2 separate regions of the Homo sapiens genome follow, and region 2 is linked to region 1. The links come from fine-mapping of genetic effects on gene expression. A gene starts in region 1. The other region holds a variant in brackets. All regions are shown on one strand. Distances are between the middles of the regions.

The links. PIP is the estimated chance that this variant, and not a neighbour inherited with it, causes the effect.
Region 2: its variant is fine-mapped to the expression of RALGPS1 in whole blood (INTERVAL, PIP above 0.99).

The regions. Positions count from the first base shown.
Region 1 is chr9:126,911,441-126,922,846 of GRCh38, forward strand. RALGPS1 (Ral GEF with PH domain and SH3 binding motif 1) reads left to right here and starts at 3,342. Exons shown (of 19, transcript NM_014636.3): 1 at 3,342-3,535. RefSeq lists a silencer at 3,314-3,743 and enhancers at 4,234-4,303, 5,597-5,646.
Region 2 is chr9:126,938,137-126,950,922 of GRCh38, forward strand. The region is part of intron 1 of RALGPS1 (Ral GEF with PH domain and SH3 binding motif 1); the gene reads left to right. Among named protein-coding and RNA genes, the nearest start is that of RALGPS1, 30 kb to the left of the region's middle. The variant T/C (reference allele first, on the strand shown) is at 3,225.

The DNA.
Region 1 (11,406 bases):
TTTATCTATTCATCACTTGATAGACATTTGGGTTATTCACATTTTTTGATATTGTGAATGATGCTGCCGTGAACACCTGTCTACAAGTTTTTGTGCAGACATGTTGTGTCCATTTCTTCTTGGGTGGTAAGTAGGAGTGGAGTGATTGAGTCATATGCTAACTCTATGTTTTCTAAAGTGGTTGTACCATTTTATATTTCCACCAGCAGTGTATAAGGGTTCCATTCTCTCTCTCTCTTTTTTTTTTTTTTTTTGAGAGGGAGTTTCACTCTTGTCCTCCAGACTGGAGTGCAATGGCGCCATCTCAGCTCACTGCAACCTCCACTTCCCAGGTTCGAGTGATTTTCTTGCCTCAGCTGGGATTATAGCCACTTGCCACCACACCCAGCTAATTTTTTTGTATTTTTAGTAGAGATGGGGTTTCACCATGTTGGCCAGGCTGGTCTTGAACTCCTGACCGCAGGTGATCCACCCACCTTGGGAGACAGGCGTGAGCCACCACGCCCAGCCAAGGGTTCTATTCTCTTCACCTTCTCATCAACACTTGTTATTGTCTATCTTATTTGTTGTAGCCATCCTAATGGGTGTGAAGTGGTATCTCATTGTGGTTTTGATTTGCATTTTCCTAATGGCTAATGATATTGAGCACTTTTTCATGTGCTTATTGACCACTGTGTATCTTCTTTGGAGAAATGTCTATTCAGATCCTTCTCTCTCTCTCTCTTTCTCAGACTGCACTTGGCTTTATTGCTTTAAGAAACCTATTATTTCTCGCTTATCACCATCTAAACTTTTCTGTCTTCTTTAACGTTGAACTCCCTTCTTCCTTGCTTCATTTTACTCCCATAGCACTTTTCTCTATCTAGCCTACTACTGTAAATATTGATTTTAATAGCTGCCTTACCCCACTAGAATGTCAACTCCACGAGGACAAGAATTTTTGTCTCTTTTATTCACTGCTGTTTTCTCAGCATTTACAGTAGCACTTGGCGCATAGCAGAGAACCATTAGATATTTGTAGAAAGAATGAATACATCCTTCTGGAAGCATCAAGAATCAATATTAAATGACCTTTCCTCATTTTAAAATTGGGTTTATAATAACTTCTAATATATCACAAAAGAATCTGTGTTCATTGAAAAAACTTAGAAAGTATGCATAAGCATAATAAAAGTATAGATGCCATTTAGCAAGCGTACATTGCACACACTTCTGTGCTTGCCCAAAGTCACACAGGTAAATATAATAGTAGCCAATGTTTATTGAGGTCCTGTTAGGTGCCAGGCACTCTTCCATGTATCATCTCATTAATTCCTGCCAACAGCCTGTCTAAAGAGGTTGCTACTTTTATCATTCTCATCTTTCAATAAAGAAACCGAGGCAGGTTGGGCGCGGTGGCTCAAGCCTGTAATCCCAGCACTTTGGGAGGCCAAGGTAGGCAGATCACCTGAGGTCAGGAGTTCGCGACCAACCTGGCTAACATGGTGAAAACCCATCTCTACTAAAATACAAAAATTAGCTGAGCATGGTGTGTCTGGCGTCTGTAATCCCAGCTACTTGGGAGGCTGAGGCAGGAGAATTGCTTGAACCTGGGAGACGGAGGTTGCAGTGAGCCAAGATCGTGCCACTGCACTCCAGCCTGGGCAACAGAGCAAGACTCCGTCTCAAAAAAAAAAAAAAAAAAAAAGAAAGAAACGGAGGCACATAGATATGCTAAGTAACTTGCTCACATGTACACAGCTTGCTGGTGGCAGAGCCAGGGCAGAACCATTGCACTACACTGTCTCTTGTTCTCTCTCTCTCTTCTTTTTTTTTTTTGGGACGAAGTCTCGCTCTGTCGCCCAGGCTGGAGTGCAGTGGTGCGATCTCAGCTCACTGCAAGCACCGCCTCCCAAGTTCACGCCGTTCTCCTGCCTCAGCCTCCCGAGTAGCTGGGACTACAGGCGTCCGCACCACGCCCGGCTAATTTTTTGTATTTTTAGTAGAGACAGGTTTTCACCATGTTAGCCAGGATGGTCTCTCTCTCTTTTTTGAGACAGGGTATCGCTCTGTCATCCAGGCTGGAGTGCAGTGGCGCCATCACTTGAGGCTCACTGCAGCCTTGACCTCCCGGGCTCAAGTGATACTCCCATCTCACTCTCCTGAGTAGCTGGGACTACAGTCTGCGCCACCACGCCTCGCTAATTTTTGTATTGTTATTAGAGACAGGGTCTGGCCATGTTGCCCAGGCTGGTCTCACACTTCTGAACTCAAGCAATCCTCCCGCTTTGGCTTCCCAAAGTGCTGGGATTACAGGCATGAGCCAACTCGCCAGGCTCTTGTTCTCTTTATGCAAAATAATTAAGCACCTTCTTCGATGATTACCGTTTTCTTAATACAAAATAGCAGAAACTTCTCCCAGAGGTCTTTTAAGACACAGGTGGTTTAACTTCTACTGACTCTATTTATATTCTTTTTTGTTTGTTTCTTTTTTCCTTTCATAAGCTTTGGGAAGCATAATAACCAATCATTCCATATTCATTCATATTACTGCAAAATTACTTTGAAGATTGTCAGAATGATGTTCTATTTGTCCAAGAATCTTTCGGAGTAGGGCAGGTCATAGTACCTCCTGTCTGTGGGAGGCAGAACGGAGTTTTGCTGTGGTTCCAGATTTCCAGGGATTCACAGACCTGGCTTCAATTGTCTTTGCAATTTATTATCCCTGCGACTCTAGCTAAATGACTTAACCTCTGTGCCCACCTCACCGTGCCTGGCACAGAGTAAAGATGTGGGAGCAGAGAGACAGGATCCGGGCTCATTCCCCAGCTTTGCTCCTGTGTGGTCTTGGGCAAGTCCCTTCACCTCGTTGGGCCTAACTCTGCCCAGCTGTAAAATGGATGAGACCGCCCCCCCCCCCGCCCCGCCAGGAACTCCGAGGTTTCTTCTGGCTCTGACGTTCTGGGCTCTGTGCCTACCTCCCAGCTGTGAAGAATGGGCACTAAGGCGATGTCTCGCTCACAAAACCATTTTTGTTGAAAACGATAAATCCCAGGTAGGGATTTACGGGGGATATCGGGTGAGGCCTGGACGGCCGTGTGGGGAATAAGATGCGCGGCTATTTCTAGGCAGGGGATGGGCGTGGCGGGCGGCGGGCCGGGTGTGCTGGCAGCGCAGCATCCCTGCGGGCGGGGAGGGCGTCTGCAGATGAGCTCGGAGGCCGAGGCCCGGGAGGACCGCGGATGCAGCGGCTGCGCACTGGTACGACCAGCCGGCCGATTTGCGTGTCTCCGCCCCTACAACGAGCTGGTTGGGGGGCTGTTCTGGTGCCGCGCGCCGATTGGATGAGAGGCCCGCCGCTCAGGCCCTGGAGCGGACGGTTCCTACTGCGGCTGGGCACCGGCTCCGCTCCCGCGTCTGCCCGCGCTCCAGCTGCGCCTGGCCCGGCCCCGGCCCGGCTCGGCGTGGCCCCGGCCTCCAAGCGAAGGCGCCGCTGCCGCTGGGCCGCTCCCAGGGCCATGAGGAAGCGGCGGCAGCCACTGCGGCCCGCGTCAAGGTGACCGGCCGGGACTGCGGCGGCGGGGAGAGCGGCGGTGAGAGGCGCGGCCGACGGGGCGGGGCGGGGCGGGGCGGGCCCTGAGGCCGGGCCTGAGGGAGCTGCAGGTGTGGGGGGCGGGACCCCGAGGGCCGCCGAAGCCGGGGAGGGGCCTCGGTGCGGGAGGCGGGGCCGGGGCCGTGCCTGCGGGTGCCCGGCGCCGGGGCCTGGCCGGGGTCCGGGGGTTCTGGGGTCCGGGGCCAGGGGCGCGCTGGTCCCCGGGAGCGTGAAGGACGGCGGGGAAGAGGCGCGGGCGCGGGGGGCGGGGCCGGGGGGGCAGTTGGGCGGGGCGCCGCGGCTGCAGGTGCGGGGGGCGGGGCCGGCGGGGCTGCCGTGGGCGGGGCTGTGGGGTGCGGCCCGCGCTGGACCCAAGGAAAGCACAGGTGCGGGGGGCGGGGCCCGGGGACCTGCAGCGGTGGGGGGCGGGGCCCGGGTGGCTGCGGTACGGAAGCAGGGCCCCAGGTGAGGAGCAGGCGAGGGTGAGTGGTCGCCCGAGAAGGAAAGGCCGCCCTCTCCGCTGCCCAGGGGTGCTTGGGTGGGAGCGGGGGCTTTGGGCTCCCTGAGGATTCTGGGGGCATCCGGGGCTGCCGCTAGAAGGGCCGTCCGGGCCTGCCTGTGCCTCTGCTGACTCGGGCTTGGAGCTCAGCTGCCCTGGTTACTGGCCGGTTGCCTCCCCTATGCTACGCCGCGCCCTAAGTGGGGCGCGCTGTTTTTCGCACCTCAGGGGCTTTCCTGTTGCTATTGAAGGGGCTTGCCAGGATGCGGGGGGCGGGGGGTTGGTTGTCATTGGATGATCGGTTGTTGAAAAATGTGTGTGCTTGAAGAGTAGTATGAGGCTTGGGAGGGGTCCTGGCTTGCTGGCCACTGGTACCAGAAGCTGCTGTAGATCTCAGCAGTGCGTCTCAAAAAGACTGAAATGGCAGCCTGTTAAGTGGGGAGAGCAGGGATGAGAATTCAGAAGCTTTTGACTATGCTACCTGGGAGAGTTTTTCACCTGTTTCCTCCGTTGCAAAATGAGCATGTTAGTACCTGCCTGTGTGCCTCCCAGGGGCCTGGTGAGGATAGGATGAAACAGTGCCTACTGAGCAAATCGCTGGATAAAGTTATGAGTTTCCTTTTTCTTGTGCCGATGGGCAGGTTGGATTCAGGGACTGGAGAGTCTAAAGAAGAGAGGGTTTGTTTCTAGTTAAGAGGTGAGACTAGACCACTGTCTTTTCGCAGTTTGGGATGAGGTTTTGTTGGGAGTTCCCAAAAGACTCAGCCGTGTCTTGGATCGTGACTGCTTCTCTCTGCGAGGCCTCTGAGGGAGCTGCTGCAACGCAGGGAGCAGTGGCAAGTGGAAGCAGCAGAACATTTGTTTGCTGACCTTTAGACCCCAACCCCGGTGAGGACTCTGAGCTGGAACATAAAGCTCAGGCCTGAGGCTATGGAAGTCCCTCTGCCCCCATCCAAGTACAGACCCCGATTTTACCACATTCCAAGAGGGTCGGGCGCGGTGGCTCACGCTTGTAATCCCAGCACTTTGGGAGGCCAAGGCGGGTGGATCATTTGAGGTCAGGAGTCCGAGACCAGCCTGGCCAACATGGTGAAACCCCCTCTCTACTAAAAAATACAAAAGTCAGCCGGGCATGGTGGCGGGCACCTGTAATCTCAGCTACTCAGGAGGCTGAGGCCGAGAATTGCTTGAACGTGGGAGGCGGAGGTTGCAGTGAGCCGAGATCGTGCCACTGCACTCCACCCTGGGCGATGGAGTGAGACTTTTCCATCTCAAAACACACAAAAATCCCCAAAAGAAGACCCCCAAAAGAAGGCAATGCCTGACTCCACTGTGTACCCACAGGGGCGGGGAGAAGGAAGCAGGATGACAGGGCTTTTTCTGAATTTCAGAAGAGTGTTGTATACCCATATATGTGACCTTTCAAAGCCCAGTGCCTCTGCTCACTGGTAGTTGACCAGTCCAAACTGTAATGCCTCCTACCTTCGTTGCATGGACAGAAGTGAAGGTAGGTGGAGCCTTCTCTACTAACCTGAATTTTTTTTTTTTCACTGTAGAAGCTGTGGGACTTTAGGGGCCAGGAACCATGGTGCTGGCCTCCCTCATTACCACTAGTTGGTGCAGTGGTGACCCAGTAGCATTGAGGGGATTAGGCCCTTACTGGTGCCTGTGCTTGTGTGGCAGGTCCCAGAGGATCTAGAAGCAGCATGTGAGAGTTCTCCCACTCTGTCTTGGCAGAAGCGGTGTTAATGGCTCTCAGAGACTGCTGCTGTCTGAGTGACCATCATGCTCTTTGGGTTAGAAGGAAAGCTCAAACTTGGTGGCAAAGAAGACCTAGAACATGTGTTGAATAATGAGGGGATTAGCAACATTCAGGGTGGAGAGAAATACTTCATTAATGAAAAATACTGCATGTGAGGCTCTGTGATATGGCCCACCTCTTGAAATGGATTTTCCTTTTCAGTATGGAGGGTAAGAGCTCAGACTTGGAAGTCAGTCAGGTCTGTTTGAAACTGCAGGCTGCCACCTCCTGCTGAGTGAACCAGCACTACTTCCTTAGCTTCACAGAGCTTTGGTTTCTTTATTTGTAAAGCAAGGATAACCATGCCCACCTTGTGAGGTTGTTATGAAGAATAAATGAGACGGGAGGGGAGAAGGCACCTGATCCACCTGGTTAGGGTCCTGTTCTGTCTCTCACTGCCTGCCCATCTTTCAACACAAGCTACTCAGAACAGCATGTAACATGCAAGGAGAGCAGGACAGGGAATTCTGAGGCCTCTATTTTTTATGTAACCTTGAACAAATCCCTTCCTGTCTCCAGACCTTGGGTTTCTTAGCTGAGTGAGGAGGGTGTTAGACTATGTGATCACCAAGAGTCCTTCGAGCTCTAGCCTTCTGGTTAGCATGCCGTCATCTTTTCTTCAAAGGCAGGAGGGAGGAAACTAATGACCTCTTGTTTAGTTCTTCTTTTAAAAATATCTGTCTAGCACCTTGCCTGGCCATAGTAGGTGCTCACCGAATGCTTGTTGAAAGAACAGATGAAGGACTTTGACTGGAAAGAAGGTGTGGCAAGTTGTCCCTGCTACTTTTATGCATATGGTTTCTGTACCCTTAACATACATTTTATTTATTGCACAAAAATATTGTAACATTAGTAAAATTAGTGAACTTCAACATAAAAGACAAAAGTTGTTGCATGGTTTCATTTCATCACACATTAAATTCATTCAATTTTTGTTCGTAAACATACATAATTCTTCATGGTTGCAATCGTACGTATGTAAGCATTTGGGAAAGGCCCAGTAATAAATGGTTTCTTTGAATATCGTTTAAAACTTTTTTTAAGAGACAGGGTCTCCCTCTGTTAGCCAGATTGGAGTGCAGTGGCACAGTCACGGCTCACTGCAGCCTTGACCTCCCAGGCTCAAATGATCCTCCCACCGTAGCCTCCCAAGTACTGCGCCACAACACCTGGCTAATTTTTAAATTTTTTGTAGAGATGGGAGTCTCACTATGTTGCCCAGGCTGGTCTCGAACTCCTGGGCTCAAGTGATCCCCGCATCGGCCTCCCAAAGTGCTGAGATTACAGGCATGAGCCACCACGTCTAGCAAGTATAGTTTTTATTTTATATTTTGAGGAAGTAAAAAAAAAATCACACATGGATTTTTTTTTTTTTTTTGAGACAGAGTTTCACTCTTGTTGCCCAGGCTGGAGTGCAATGGCGCGATCTTGGCTCACAGCAACCTCCGCCTCCCGGGTTCAAGCCATTCTCCTGCCTCAGCCTCCAGAGTAGCTGGGATTACAGGCATGCCCCACCACGCCTGGCTAATTTTGTATTTTTAGTAGAGGGGGTTTCTCCATGTTGGTCAGGCTGGTCTTGAACTGCAGACCTCAGGTGATCCGCCTGCCTCGGCCTCCCAAAGTGCTGGGATTATAGGCGTGAGCCACCGCACCGGGCCCACACATGGATTTTTTTTAAGGCTAGTGAGGGAATAAGTTGTAAGTGTCTTTCTTGCCTCAAGTTGACAGTTCCTAGTCCTTTTCCCTAGAGGCAGCCACTGTTACCAGTTTCTTGTTTATTATATATTCTTTCTCTTACACAAAGAATAGCATTTTATACATACTCATTGGTGCTTCATGTATCCACTTGATTTACTTTGGACATTGTTCTAGCATTGGAAAATGTGTCAGTTAGTATATACAGTTCCTTCTTAATAAATGTTTTTGACTGATATAAGCATAATTTTGTACCTCCACCCCCCACACCCCAATGATGTTTACTCAGTATTGGTTAGCAGTCATTGTTTAGAAGACTAACAAGAGACATCCTTTGTCCTAGGAAAAAAAGTGGCCTTGGTCCCAGTGAACAGTAGATTAAAGGGCAATCCATGTATCTGGATGCAAGGCGGAGTACAGAAAGAGAAAGGAAAAGAGATTTGTTCACTGGTAATTGAGAACTGATTTTCCATTCAGGCCTTGATTCAAAGTCCAGCTCTGTCACTTACTGGCTGTGTGACTTGGAACAATTTATCTAATCTTTTTGCATCTTAGTTTCCATATCTGTAAAATAGATAATGATAATAGGATCTGTCTTTGGGGGTTTTTGTGCGGAGGAAGGGAGATCATGCTATGCAAAGTACATACAGCAATAGCAGGTCATAGTAGGTGCTTAAGAAGGATGAGCTGCTATGTTATTAATAATCTGAAATAGATTCTATTCTTTGTGAGCAGATATTTACTGGACAATTAAGGGTGAGCCATGGAGAATACCTAAAGTCCTTGCCTTTGAGGTGCTCACATGCTGTGTGTGGAGATCGGCGCACAAGCCATTGATTACCAAACAGTATAGTGGGCCAGGTCGTGGGAGGCGAGCATTGTGTGAGATCACAGAGGCAGGGAACAGTGACTTCTCCCTGGGGTGGTTTGGAATGCCTCCTCAGCTCAAATTTTCCCTCCTTTGTGAAACCTACTTAATTTTTCCAGGCACCCTCCTATTTGTACTCCCTTGACTTTCATTCTGTGTGTACCTGGATCAGAGCACACATCATGTTATTGCATGTGTGACTTTTTGCCTGTGTCTCTACTCTGCACAGGGAAAGTCTCCTGCTTTCTTTGCTGCTGGGTCTCCAGAGCTTGACACAGGGTAGGCTCTTGTTGAATAGTGTGATGGACCTGTGCTTAGACAAATCATACTACTAAGTGGTGGCAAATTCTTATTTATACGTCACCAGGTCTCTGGTGAAACCCATTCTCTGGACTCTACTTCTTCACTCCCCAAATATTTGAGTGCTGACTCTGAGACAGGCATGTGCTGTGCTATATGCTAGGTGTAGGCTTTGGGTATGGCTGATGATACTTGTCCTAAAAAATCTTAGGGATGGGGAAGAAGGAAATATTTGTTGCAGATGCTGAAAGTCAAGATGAGGAAGCAGAAAAATGGACAAGTCTGGAATGAGCTGCTCATGCTTGCTGAAACTCACCTCTCCTTTCCACAGAAGTATGGCTGCTCTCCCTTGCCTTGGGCTGGAGTTGTGGAGGTGCAGGCCAAAGGAGCTGAGTAGGTGGCTCATAGATTTTAACTCGGGGGAAGAGTTGGTTGGATTGGCTTCTGTGAGGAGTGTTTCTGGGCCTCCTTTCGTGGCAGAGAATACACTTGACTTTCTTCAGGTGGGCATTCATTAACCTGCCTTGCTGGGCTCTTGCTTTGGGCTCAACCTTGTAATGGATGCTGGACACATGCAGATGAAGCTTTGTCCCTGCCCTTTGGGATCTCACAGTCAGTGGAGAAGTCACCCACAAACAGAAGGTGACTGAAGGCGATTGGCCATAACAGAGAACCTCTCATGAAGTGGCCAAGCAGTTTCAGGCTCGGGGCCAGGCAGACCCGGGTTCAAATCCTGCCTCTGTCACAGACAACCTGTGTGACCATGGGCAGGTGTCTTCCCAGCTCTGAGTCTTGGTTTACTGATTTGGTAAAGTGGGGATAGCAGTTTTACCTAACTTAGGGCTGTTGAAGATTTCAGTGAAATAATGCAGTGCAGTGTTTAGCACAGTGCCTGCTGGGAAGCTAATGCTTACAGAGTGCTCACTATTGTAATTATACGTGATGCTGTGGGAGAACCAAGAAGCACCTCTTGAGCTGTTTCTCAGGATCCTAGTGATAGTGTCGTGGTCATGATGAAAGTTAGGTATTGAATGTGAAGGTCAAGTCGTCTGAGAGATCAACTCTGAAGTCACCAAGCGCTCAAGGAGTCCTCAGGACCTTCCTCACTAGCCCTGTGGCTGATATTATGGCTCCAGGGCTATAGGCTTGTCTGTAAGTGTTTCCTCCCCACTTTCTGCGTGAGCTCTTCTGAAAGATACATTTCACCTGTCATCATTGTGAACACCTTTTCTTTGTCTGAGTACCTGCACTGATCATTCCATGACTTCTCCCCAAGGAGAGGCATGAGTTGTACTTGTCTCACCTGTGCTTGCTGAGGAGCGCAGAGACCTGAAGACCCAGAACAGCAAATAATTCCTTGGTTTTTCTGTAGAGCTTTCAAGTCTGTCGTGTTCTTCTTTGCAGGAGATTTATCTCCTGAGCATCAGAGAGGCAGATAGGGCAGTGCTTAAAACACGGACTCTGGAGTTGGGACACAAACAGATGTGGGTTTGTGTCCTGACACCATCACTCACAAGCCATGTGGCTTTGAGCAAATGACTATACCTCTGTTTCCTCATCGATACAAGAGGTGAGATAGTACGCGCCTTTGTGTGGTTCGTACAGGGTTTCAGGGAGACGCTACAAAATAGGGCTTAGCAGAGGGCTTGCACATTGTGAGCACCCAGGAAGTGGGAGCTAGAATAGTGTCCTCTTTTCACCCAGGGTAGTAAGATTTTTAGGATGCTTTTCTCAGGGTATTAATGTATTGTCTGTGGAAGTTATATGAGTTACTGCACAAGCAATGTGTTAAAACACACATGTACTTGGTGATGGGGGGCTGGGAAGCATGTCCAGGGTGGCAGGCAGAACTCTTCCTGCGCTGGGATTGCAGAGGCAAGCCTCAGCTCCCACAAAGACATAGGGTACTGGTGAGGGAGAGGACGGAGCCATTCTGGGCGCGTTTGTCTCAGGCCCATTTAGGAACTGGGGGCTGCTTCTCAAGTTCTTTCTGTTTAATCATTCCATTATTCCGTGTAAATGATTGGTCTTTAATATAAACTGATAATACAACATGATACTTTCCCTCTTCAGGATTTAAATATTTATTTTTTAAGGTTAAGTCAATTTTTGAGTAAGCAGAAGAAAATTTGAATCTTTGGCCTTGACATCATAGGTTTCTTTTAAAATCATCTGAGATGAAAGGAAGAATAGGGAATGTATTTAAGTCCATGTTTATTGGATACAGTAATTATCACCCACTGTTGTATAAGCCTGATAACTAGGGCAAGGGAAGTTTGTGCTTTTGGCATATTTCTGAATAATTAAATATTTATGGAAAACAAGTTAATAGATTCAAGACAATTTGCTGTGTCTTTCTCTGGCATAAAGTTCGTTATGTGGAATTACAGAGAGGATTAGTCCTCTGTGCATCTGTTTATTTTTTCCTTCTAGGCACCATATCTCTAACACTTTCAGTCCACTAGCATTTATAGATTGCTCTCCTACTGGGCTCCCACAACTCTCTCACTGTGTGCCCTGCCTTAGCATATAGTACAATTGTGCCCACCAGTGACTCCCTCATGACCTTTCTCTAGACTTTACAGAGTGAGAGTCCACATTTGTTCTTGCGTATTCAGGGCCTACCCCAGGGCTGGTACAAGGCAGCCAGAATGGTCTGAGCATGCCATTCC
Region 2 (12,786 bases), 27 kb after region 1:
TGCCATTTTCTGCATCACTGTTTATAGTGGCAAAAAGGTGAAAAGAAGGGGAGCACCCATCAGCAGTGTTGGAAAGGAGCCAGCTCTCTAGAAATTGGCACGAGAGAAGGCCAGGATATATTGTTAGGTTTAAAAAATCTGCTACCCTACCTGAGGAGCTCTGTCTAATCTCCCTCTCTGATGCTTGCTTTGGCCAGTTGAATACGCTACACCTTTTGAAAATGTGAAGTTTTAGGTGGTGTAGTAGCCATAGGCCCTGTCTGTCCCTATTCTGTTAAACCTCCAGCTTCACCATTGACGTGATCTGTCTGGGCCCAGCAGGCATGGAGGCCATGACCCTGGTCTCTGGCATGAGCCCAGCATGATTACATGTTGGTAGGCAGAAAGGCATGGAGGAATGTGCTCTTGGTGGCTCAAAGTGAGGTGGGTGGAAGGGGGAGGGCGTACAAGGAAGGGTGGGTTGATGGCTTCTTATTTGTACACCCCTACTGGGTTTGGCTATAGCAATAAGGATATGTTTTCAAAGTAGGCTTGCTCAGAAAAGGCTTTGCGAGTCATGGAAGCTGTGGGTGGCCACAGCTGTGACAGTCCAGTGAGGAAGATGAACACACACTTCACGACAAATGTTTTGAGTGTTGTGGAGAAGTCTAGATGCTCTAAAAGCTGTAGGAGAAGGACCTACCTAGGGCATCACTGAGATTTCCCACAGGAAGTGACATTTAAATGAGAATGGAAGAGTAGGAAAGAGCCAGGAGTAGAGGAGGGAGGAGGGTTTTAGGGAGACAAACTAGCCCCCGTTTTTGCTGGTGGTGAAAGAAGCAGGCTGGGTGTGGCCAGGGATGTGCCTGAATGACCTTCTGGGACCTGATGTGGTATCCACAAATCTCTCCTTCCTTGGCTGAGCTGTACCTACAGCGGAGCCACTTCTAAGGGCTGGAAGTGGGAGAGGGGGGCAGAGGGTCTGCACTTCAGCACAGAACATGTTCCCCTGATGGGCTCTGTGATCCTCATTGCTCCCCAGTCCTGCAGGGTCGCATGTGTCTGTCAAGGCACCTTCTCTCCTTCCAGTCCCTTTGTACTATCCTTCAGCCTTTTGGGACAGCAGAACCAGGCAGCTTGGGTGCTCATGGGGTGGCTTGAGCATCACAGGCTCACTCTGACCTTTCTCCTTTCCATAGTAGGCAGGGGAAGTATTCATTCATTTTTATTGAGAACACAATAGACTATGCTGGGCACTGTGCTGGAAACTGGGGATGAAATAACAGTATTTGAACATGTATCCCATGCCAGGCACTGTGATCAACACTTATTGCACAGAGATGGCTTCAGTTAAGGAACTTAACACATATAGAGCACTTAGACGAGTGCTTGGCACCCCCAGTACTCCTGAGCACCAGCTGTTGCTATTAGTTAATCCTTACCACAGCCACATGAGATGGGTACAATCCTGTATGCCCACTTTACAGAAGGGGAAATAGAAGCCAAGAGGCACTTGCCACATAGGTGGTAGATGGCAGAGCAGGATTCAAACCCAGGACAGTTGGACTTCCAAGTCCTGTCCCTCTCTGAGAGTGAGTGAGACAGACATAGAGGGTGAATGGGATAGACATGACCCTCGCTTTACAGAGCTCTTATGGTTGAGCAGGGAGCAGCCGCATTGGCATGTCAGAGTGACAAGCGTTGCGGAGGGCTAAGCAGAGAGCCTGCAGAGGAAGGCCATGGACCCAGGCTGGAGGCCTGTTGGGTGGAGGGGAAGGAAACAGTATTCTAGGTAGAGTCCTCTGCGATCAAAGTCACTTCCTGCTCACCTAAGGGATACGTTTCATTCGCCTCTGGGCTTCAGCGAGGAGGTACTAGTTCAGTCGTCTGTGTACAAGCTATTAATGATTAATAATTTGAGTGCAGGGGTGTGGCTACTCATCCAAGCCAGTGTTCTGGGATCTTATCTCCCAGGCACTCCCATTGAGGCTGACCCCTCCTTTTCCAAGCAACCTGTGCCCTGAGGTCCTGTCACACTTCTTTACCATGTGCAAATAGCCTGGGTTATGAATCTGTGCTGCCCAGCCCGCCTCTCACTCCACTTCTGTTGAGTGAGTGAGTACATTCAGATGTCGTGTTGGACTGTTCCATTGCACAGTTAGAAATAAAGAAATGAAGCATCATTATAAACCTATGATTGAAAGTCCAAGCCACGTAAATTCTGCTACGATCCTGCCACCTGCCACCCCAACATACTGAATAGTGTTTATGTTTGTGTACTTTTCTTCAGTCCCTGTCCATTGGGCAGGTGTATGTATATATATAATTTTTTTTTTTTTTTTGAGATGGAGTCTCGCTCTGTTGCCTAGGCTGGAGTGCAGTGGCGCGATCTTGGCTCACTGCAAGCTCTGCCTCCCGGGTTCACGCCATTCTCCTGCCTCAGCCTCCTGAGTAGCCGGGACTACAAGCCGCCCGCCACCATGCCCAGCTAATTTTTTTGTATTTGTAGTAGAGGTGGGGTTTTGTCGTGTTAGCCAGGACGGTCTCGATCTCCTGACCTCGTGATCCGTCGAACAGGTATATTCTTATGCTGTTGTGTACAAAAGTGCATCTTGTCTCTTGCTTTCTCGGCATGGTTGTATGAAATTGAGTAGTTAGGTGATTGGCCACCAGGTGGTGCTGCAGCACCAGGCACCAGACCCGAACCTGGGAACCGCTGTCTTTAAATACCCAGCTCTGAGCCATCCTTGTCTGTGTAAGTTCATTTTCAGTTTTTTCCTCTAGGTGCTGTGCTGCTCATAAATGTTTTCCATACCTATTTCAAAAGAAACCAGAAAATATTGAAGTGTACAGAAATAGAAAGTAAAAGTGCCATACAATAATGCCATTAAGAGGCAGTGATATTAACAGTTTAGTGAATATCCTTCTATACTTCTATATGTGTGTTCACATGTGTTATAAAGATTTTAAAACATGTTCAAGTGTCATTTTCTCAGTGAGGACTTCTCATATACGCCCCCCCCCTTTAAAATTATGACTTCGTCTAGTTGTGGGGGGGGGTTGTTGGGGAAGGAGGGATGATTAATGGATTCAAAGATAGGAAGAAGATTGGATAAGATCTAGTATTTGATAGCACAACAGGGTGATTGTAGTCAATAATAATTTAATTGTACATTTAAAAATAACAAAAGGAGTATAACTGGATTGTTTGTAACACAAAGGATAAGTGCTTGAGGTGACAGATA[T/C]TCCATTTACCCTGATGTGATTATTACACATTGTATACCTGTATCAAAATATCCCATATACCCCATAAATATATGCACCTGCTGTGTACCTGCAAAAATTAAAAATAAGTGTAAAAAAAAGAGAAAATTATGACCTGTCTCCCACCCTGCCTACTTTTCTCTGCTTTACTTTTTTCTTTATCACTTACCATGAGCTGGCAAGCCTTGTCTTTTGCTGAATGATTTACTTAGTGTCTGTTTCCCCCACTAGAATATACTGGGGGTTTTGGGTTTTTTCTTCACTGCTCTATCCCTAGCATCTAGGACAGTGCTTGATATATACTAGCTTTTCAGGAAATAGTTATTGAATGAAAGCATGAAAGTGAGTGTGCCCTGAGTTTATGGACATTGCTCTCTGTCAGGAAGTATTGATCTCCCTCACCTTTTTATCTACCACTTAGTATCCCATTGAATGGATGTGTTCTAACTGTCTTTACTGTGGTTTTCAAGTGTTTTCCTGGCTTTTTTGTAGCCAGTGTTACAGTCAGTAGCTTTCCTGGAACATATACTCTCTGGTTATCTATTTGATGATTTCCTTGCTTTGTTTGAACTCTGGGCTTAGTGCTTTACAAAAAATAGCTCATATTAATCCTCACACCAACCCTCTAAGAAAGATGCTGCTCTTAGTTTCTCCTTTTCACCTGATGAGAAAGCTGAGGTTTAGAGAGAACAAACCCCCTGTTCAGGTCCACCCATCTTCCGAGTGTTGAGCCATCCTGTATTAAGGATGTTAATTCATCATCTGTCATGTGACATCACAAACACCCTTTTCCCAGTTTATTGACTGCCTTTCATTTTTTTCATGATGTCTTTTCCTTTATAGAAGTTTTAATTTTAATGTAGCTAAATCTACCAGTAGTTTTCTGGCTTTTGTATCACTCTTAGGACTTTTTTTTTTTACCTCCAAATTATTTTAAAAATTTGATCTGTGTTTTCTTTAGTATTTTTCCTTTTTTTGTTGTTAAGTCTTGAATCCATCAAAAGTTTATCCTTATATATGATATTGAGCAAGATTTTAAACAAATTCCTCTTTTTCCCAAGTGAATAGTAAATAGTTTCATCAACATTTATTGAAGAATCTATCTTCTCCACTGTTTGAAATGCCTCTTGGTTATATGCTACTCCTCACATATACTGGATCCTGTGTTCTGGACTGTGTCTTGTCCTGCAAATCTGTTTCTCTGTTTCTTTGCCATTTATCATTGACTGTGGCTTCCTGGCAGGATAAGACTCTTCTTACTGTAGTTCTTTTTTGAAAATGTCTTAGCTGTTTTTAATTATTCTTCCAGATGAAATTTTAAATCAATTTGTTGAGTTCCAAAATGAATCCCCTTAGGATTTGGAGTGAACTTACATTTTATTTATAGATTGATTGGGTGGAATTGATGGCTTTACAATACTGTCTCCTTATTCCAGGGAGTGAAATGTCTCTCCTTTGATTTAAGTCTTTTTTTTTGTCTTTTAGTAAGGTTTTATAATTTTCTTTAAATGATTTTTGTACATTTCTTTTAAAGTTTATTTCTGGATATTTTTCTCTTTTGTTAGTGGGCTCTTGGGCCATTACGCTTTCTAGCTGGCTATTGTTTGTACAGAGGAAATTGTTGATTTTATAGCTGGATAGATATCATTCATAGATTTCTCTCTAGTCCACTTCCATTTGCTTGAAATCTAGAAATTCTTAATAATTTATAGTTCATTGATGTCATCCTTTTCTGTATTTTAATGCTGCAACAGATTTTTTCCTTTTTTTCTTTTTTGAGATGGAGTCTTACTCACTCTGTTGCCCAGGCTAGAGTGCAGTGGCGCAATCTCAGCTCACTGCAACCTCCACCTCCTGGATTCAAGCGATTCTTCTGCCTCAGCCTCCTGAGTAGCTGGGATCACAGGCATGCACCACCACGCCCGGCTAATTTTTATATTTTTAGTAGAGACAGGGTTTTGTCATGTTGGCCAGGCTGGTTGTGAACTCCTGACCTCAAGTGATCTGCCCTCCTTGGCTTCCCAAAGTGCTGGGATTACAGGCGTGAACCACCGTGCCTGGCCTTATGTTTTATTTATTTGGTCCTTTCAGCAGGACCTGGAGAGTGGAAGGCAAATGGGTGGACTCCTCTCATTATCTTCATAGTCTATTAGTCGAGGTTGATGTGAAAGTGTCATCTGTCCCTGTGCCTTTCTGGCACCTCCAACCCACACCATCAACCCTGCAGTGCTCTCCGTGGAATGTGGGCTGACCCTGAAGAGCCTTAGAAACTGGGTGCAGGTTTTCCGTTTTCCTGTCACCTGGGGTGTGCCCTTTACTCCTGAAGTCTTTCTCCTACCGCTGCCTGGACTGCTTTCACTGCCCCTTTTCCAACCAGACCTTGCCCACCCTGCCTGTCTCTGTAGACAGCTTCCTTCTTGTTTTAAGGGAAGGACCAGGCTGTTCATTATGAAAATTAGGTCGTAGGGCCAGGACTCAATGCTGTTTGTCAACAAGGCCCAATAATGTAATGTGGGTATCCTGTTCTGCCAACCTAACCCTTGCCTCAAGGTTTCTGAGGTACCTCATCGCAGAAGGAACAGCAGCCAAGGAGAACTCAGAGACCCTCATTATAAGCCTGGCACCCTAACACAGGACCCTCTGGTCAAAGCTGGGTTGGAGCAGGTAATGGGCTCGCAGCCCATGGGGGCCTCCCACTTGCCTGAACTTGATCTGTGTCTGGGTCCCTTACCATCCGCCAGCCAGCAGCAGTGTATGGGACATGCAGGCCTGGTGGGCACCCTTAGGCATGCACGCAGGAGTCAGAGAGGGGCTGAGCTCAAGCAGAGGCCCTAGTTCACCACACATCTCACAGCAGCAGTGGAGAGAAGAGAAGGCCTTGAATAGGTGATGATCTTTTGGCACTTAGTGACACTAATGGATGTGGTCCTATCCTGACCTGGCTTGGTACCAGCCAGACCAGTAATGCCTCTGCCTTTGGCAGGATCTAAGAGGGAGGGAAAAGGAGGTCAAGACCCCCTGCTCCCTACACGCCTCCACAGTCCACCTTAGATGGTTTCTGTTTGGCCCACACGTAACAGGTGTAAAATGCCTGATTGTCAACACCCAGGGCTGCAGTCCTCCCATAATGGTTTTTCACAGGAAATGTTGAGACCCCTGTTTTTAGACCTATTCCTAAGGGAGACTATGGGGAGGGAAATTGGGTGGGGAGGGAGGGTGGGATAGGATATGAGAATATAGAATCCTTAATTTTTTTTTAACTTTTTATTTTGAGATTATTTTAGATTTATAGAAAGGCTGCAAAACAGTACAGAGCTTACATAACCACAGTACTATTATGAAATTAATAGGTACCACACTGTTTACTGAACTACAGACCTTTTTCAGATGTTACCAGTTTTCCCCACAGTGTCCCTTTTCTGTTTCAGGATCCAGTCTAGGGTCCCTCAGTGCATTCAGCCATTGAGTCTCATCAGTTTCCTCTGGTCTGTGATAGTTCCTTAGTCTGTCCAGAAGGTATCAGCTGAGCCTTGGTGGATGAAATTTAGAGTCTAGTTTTGGTGATTCTATTTGTCAAGCCTATAGAGTGAAAGAGTCTCATCTAGCCCTGCAGGTGTTGTTGTAGGCACCTGGCCTGGCTGGCACTCCCCGTGGACATGAGTCTTCCTGTCCACAGGAGGCAGCCCAGGAGGCTCCCCACTGCTGCCCTCCTCCAGGTGAGGTATGAGTGGGCCACTGTACTCCTTCCTCCAGTTGCAAGGGAAGCAGCTAACAGGGTCTGACACTTCTCTAAGACTGTCTTTGTCAGGTGTCCTCTCTTTCTCTTGCTTTTTTTTTGAGATGGAGTCTCACTCTGTCACCCAGGCTGGAGTGCGGTGGCACAATCTCGGCTCACTGCAACCTCCGCCTCCCTGGTTCAACCCATTCTCCTGCCTCAGCCTCCCGAGTAGCTGGGATTACAGGCACTCACCACTACACCCAGCTAATTTTTTGTATTTTTAGTAGAGACGGGGTTTCGCCATGTTAGCCAGGCAGATCTCGAACTCCTGACTTCGTGATTTGCCTGCCTCAGCCTCCCAAAGTGCTGGGATTAAAGGCATGAGCCACTTCGCTTGGCCTTCTCTTGCATTTTTAATATTTTGCCCTCTGCTAACTCTTTCAGTCTGAGGATGTGCTTAGAAGTCTTCCTCAGGCACCTCAAAACCCCAGCTTCAATCTGCTGCCCTCATCTCTTGCCTTCCCCTTTCTGCTGTACTTGGCTCTGGGAGAGTCAGGACCATCAGGTCCCATTGTGCATCGGGCCTTCCCTGACACTGCACACAGGGTGTTCTTGCCATTATATCCTCAGGCCTGTTCTCAGGTCTCATCCCAAGTGGTTCTGCAGTACCTTATACCATGGACTGAATTCTTTCTGCAGTTCCTGCTTTCTGCTTCTGTGTGATAAGGTCGTTCCCTGGGGCAGACATCGTCTTCTCTTATCAGTCAGGGTATTTCTTCAGCTTCCGTTTGGAGAAGGGGAAGATGCATTCTGTTTTTCTCCAGCTGGGTATGCTTTAGATATAGGAAAATGTACCTTTTTTAGTGTATTGTTATGCAAGTTATGACTTAGCTTTTGCAATCACTCTATTAAGAATAAACCATAGAGGGACGGGGCGCAGCAGGGAGACTGCGTAAGAGGCTTTCACGGTAGATGGGAGGTTTTGGTGGCTTGGATCAAGATGGAGGGATTGGAGGTGGTGAGACCTGGCCATATTCCACAGAGAGGAATTTTCTCTGTCCGTGATGGCCCAGGACAGAGACAGTACCCCTTCTAGTTCCAGACAATGTTGCCTGCTGATACTCAAAGCAAATGTTCCCTGGATCCTGATTAAGATTGAGGGTTTGGCCAGGCATGGAGGCTCATGCCTCACTCGGGAGGCCGAGATGGGCAGATCACCTGAGGTCAGGAGTTCGAGACCATCCTGGCCAATGTGGCGAAACCCCGTCTCTACTAAAAATACAAAAATTACCTGGGCGTGGTGGCACACACCTGTAATCCCAGCTACTTGGGAGGCTGAGGCAGGAGAATTGCTTGAACCTGGGAGACGGAGGTTGCAGTGAGCTGAGGTTGCGCCACTGCACTCCAGCCTGGGTGAGGGAGCAAGAATCTGTCTCAAAAAAAAAAAAAAAAAAAAAAAGATTGAGGGCTTTACAGAGTTAGGAAAAGGAAATGGGGGGTTGAGTTCCTGGCCTGGCTACTGTGCACTGTGATTCCGAACACACACAAGGGGAAGCTTCACTATTCAGGCTTCCAGAATAGCAGGGCACCTCTGATGCACCCAGGGCTTTTGTGGGTATCTGGTATGTCTGAGGTAGACCACCCTCATTTCTTCACTCTCCCTTTTACCCTCATTTCTTGATGTTCCCTTTAAGCCCACCCCCACAAATATCCCCTGGCCTCCCAGTTTCCTAAAATTTGCCTCCTTTCCCTATGGAAGAAATCAGGTCTTGTCAGCTGGTGGCTGCAGGGGAGGATTTTTTCCTCCTTCACCTGTCTTCTGCAGGCACCTTGTTTTGGAAGGGGAGAACCTTCGATTTCCAGAGTAGATTGTAGATGCTTATGTGGGAGATGGGGACGCTCTAGCCAGCCTTTCATAGAGGGTCTAAAAGAAAACTCTCCTGCCAACCAGAGAACCCTTTCCTGGTCTTCAGAGAAATGCATATTCCTCATTCACATTTGTTTCATTGCCTCCCCTTCAAATTGATTCTTGTGGTCTTAGGCTAAGAGAGCATTGTCTGTGCTGGAAGGTGAAGTGGTGGTGGAGGGTGTTACCAGAAACAATTGCTGTCATTTCTTGAATCCACGCTACCTGCCAGGCTCTGCACCAGCCACTTCTACATACATCATCTTATTAATCCTTTCAGCCTCCTGTGAAGTAGGTACAGGGGTAGGTACAGGATGAGCATCCCAACTCTGAAAATCTGAAATAAAAATGCTCCAAAATCTGAGACTCTTTGAGTGCTGACATGATGCTCAAAGGAAATGCTCATTGGAGCATTTTGGATTTTGGATTTGGGGATTTGGGATGCTCAGCTGGTAAGATAATGCACATATTCCAAAATCCAAAAAATCAGAAATCTGAAACACTTCTGGTCCCAAGCATTTCGAATAAGGGATGCGCAACCTGTAGCATGATTCTCCCCAGAGGAGGAAAGTGGATGTTGGCCAGGTCAAGCAACTGGCCAAGGGCACAAAGTAAGTGAAAAGTGAGTGTTCAGATCCTGGTTCTCTGTCCCCTAAGCCACAGGGAGGAGCCTGGCTTCTTTCACTTGCTCTGTAGCTGCCTTGTTTTGTGCTCCTATCAAGCCTGCACTGCAGCTTGTTACCCTGGTGGGGGTGGGGTTGAGCTACAGGTGACTTTAAAGCCTCCCCAAATCCAGGTGTGCTCTGAGCCTTGTCTATAGAATGAAGGGTGGGTGCTGTGCATGGCCCCTACTATTACTCAAATATATGTAGCTACTGCAGGGATTGTTAAACCAGAGTGTTGGTGAATTTATCATAGCTTTTTGTTACAGAAGGTTTTTTTCCTTAACAGATGACAAAAAGAGAACTACATTTTTTTTAGTGTTGTAAGGCGGGTCTCTAGAGTGTGTTTCCCTTTATATTTATATCCCTGTATATCCACACATATCAGAGTATCTGTGTGGGTGTGTGCATTAAGATGCTACCCAACACTGTGAACTGTGTTAACCCTGGGGACAGGGACTAGGTAGGGGCTTTGGGGAGAGCAGACTTGCCTTTTATATTTTATACCTTTTTATCCAGTTTACATAATTCTACTATGCATATGAATTACTTTTCTTTTAAAAATTGAGGCTGGGCGCAGTGGCTCATGCCTGTAATCCCAACACTTTGGGAGGCCGAGGTGGGCAGATCACTTGAGGCCTGGAGTTTAAGACCAGCCTGGCCAATATGGTGAAACTCTGTCTCTACTAAAAATACAAAAAATTAGCTGGGCGTGGTGGTGCATGCCTGTAGTCCCAGCTACTTGGGAGGCGGAGGCAGGAGAATCGCTCGCTTGAACCTGGGAGGCAGAGGTTGCAGTGAGCTGAGATTGCACCACTGCACTCCAGCCTGTGCAACAGAGTGAAACTCCATCTCAAAAAGAAAAAATAAAATAAAATAAAATTTCAGAAAGTCCTCATCCTTGAAAAGGTTAGGCATCCCTGGGCTGGACTATAAATTTCCTGAGGCCAAGGATGGGTTTTCTCCCCTTCTGCCTCCTCAGCTTCAGCATACAGAGCCTGGGACATGGGGGCGCTTGAGAATGCCTGTCACAGGATGGCTGCCTGTTTGTGCCGGCCCCCAATTCAGCTCCGTAAACATAGGCGCTTCCCTTCCCCAAGAAGACGCTTTTCCTGGCCCTTCTTTCCGTGCTTGCTCAATCTCCCAAGTTCTTTTTTTTTTTTATTATACTTTAAGTTTTAGGGTACATGTGCACAATGTGCAGGTTAGTTACATATGTATGCATGTGCCATGCTGGTGTGCTGCACCCATTAACTCGTCATTTAGCATTAGGTATATCTCCTAATGCTATCCCTCCCCCCTACCCCCACCCCACAACAGTCCCCAGAGTGTGATGTTCCCTTCCTGTGTCCATGTGTTCTCATTGTTCAATTCCCATCTGTGAGTGAGAACATGCGGTGTTTGGTTTTTTGTCCTTGCGATAGTTTACTGAGGATGATTTCCAGTTTCATCCATGTCCCTACAAAGGACATGAACTCATCATTTTTTATGACTGCATAGTATTCCATGGTGTATATGTGCCACATTTTCTTAATCCAGTCTATCATTGTTGGACATTTGGGTTGGTTCCAAGTCTTTGCTATTGTGAATAGTGCCGCAATAAACATAGGTGTGCATGTGTCTTTATAGCAGCATGATTTATAGTCCTTTGGGTATATACCCAGTAATGGGATGGCTGGGTCAAATGGTATTTCTAGTTCCAGATCCCTGAGGAATCGCCACACTGACTTCCACAATGGTTGAACTAGTTTATAGTCCCACCAACAGCGTCAAAGTGTTCCTGTTTCTCCACATCCTCTCCAGCACCTGTTGTTTCCTGACTTTTTAATGATTGCCATTCTAACTGGTGTGAGATGGTATCTCATTGTGGTTTTGATTTGCATTTCTCTGATGACCAGTGATGATGAGCATTTTTTCATTTGTCTTTTGGCTGCATAAATGTCTTCTTTTGAGAAGTGTCTGTTCATATCCTTTGCCCACTTTTTGATGGGGTTGTTTGTTTTTTTCGTGTAAATTTGTCTGAGTTCATTGTAGATTCTGGATATTAGCCCTTTGTCAGATGAGTAGGTTGTGAAAATTTTCTCCCATTTTGTAGGTTGCCTGTTCACTCTGATGGTAGTTTCTTTTGCTGTGCAGAAGCTCTTTAGTTTAATTAGATCCCATTTGTCAATTTTGGCTTTTGTTGCCATTGCTTTTGGTGTTTTAGACATGAAGTCCTTGCCCATGCCTGTGTCCTGAATGGTAATGCCTAGGTTTTCTTCTAGGGTTTTTATGGTTTTATGTCTAATGTTTAAGCCTTTAATCCATCTTGAATTAATTTTTGTATAAGGTGTAAGGAAGGGATCCAGTTTCAGCTTTCTACATATGGCTAGCCAGTTTTCCCAGCACCATTTATTAAATAGGGAATCCTTTCCCCATTGCTTGTTTTTCTCAGGTTTGTCAAAGATCAGATAGTTGTAGATACACGGCGTTATTTTTGAGGGCTCTGTTCTGTTCCATTGATCTATATCTCTGTTTTGGTACCAGTACCATGCTGTTTTGGTTACTGTAGCCTTGTAGTATAGTTTGAAGTCAGGTAGTGTGATGCCTCCAGCTTTGTTCTTTTGGCTTAGGATTCACTTGGCGATGTGGGCTCTTTTTTGGTTCCATATGAACTTTAAAGTAGTTTTTTCCAATTCTGTGAAGAAAGTCATTGGTAGCTTGATGGGGATGGCATTGAATCTATAAATCACCTTGGGCAGTATGGCCATTTTCACGATATTGATTCTTCCTACCCATGAGCATGGAATGTTCTTCCATTTGTTTGTATCCTCTTTTATTTCATTGAGCAGTGGTTTGTAGAAACTCACTCAAAACTGCTCAACTACATGGAAACTGAACAACCTGCTCCTGAATGACTACTGGGTACATAACGAAATGAAGGCAGAAATAAAGATGTTCTTTGAAACCAACGAGAACAAAGACACAACATACCAGAATCTCTGGGACACATTCAAAGCAGTGTGTAGAGGGAAATTTGTAGCACTAAATGCCCACAAGAGAAAGCAGGAAAGATCCAAAATTGACACCCTAACATCACAATTAAAAGAACTAGAAAAGCAAGAGCAAACACATTCAAAAGCTAGCAGAAGGCAAGAAATAACTAAAATCAGAGCAGAACTGAAGGAAATAGAGACAAAAAAAAAACCCTTCAAAAAATTAATGAATCCAGGAGCTGGTTTTTTGAAAGGATCAACAAAATTGATAGACTGCTAGCA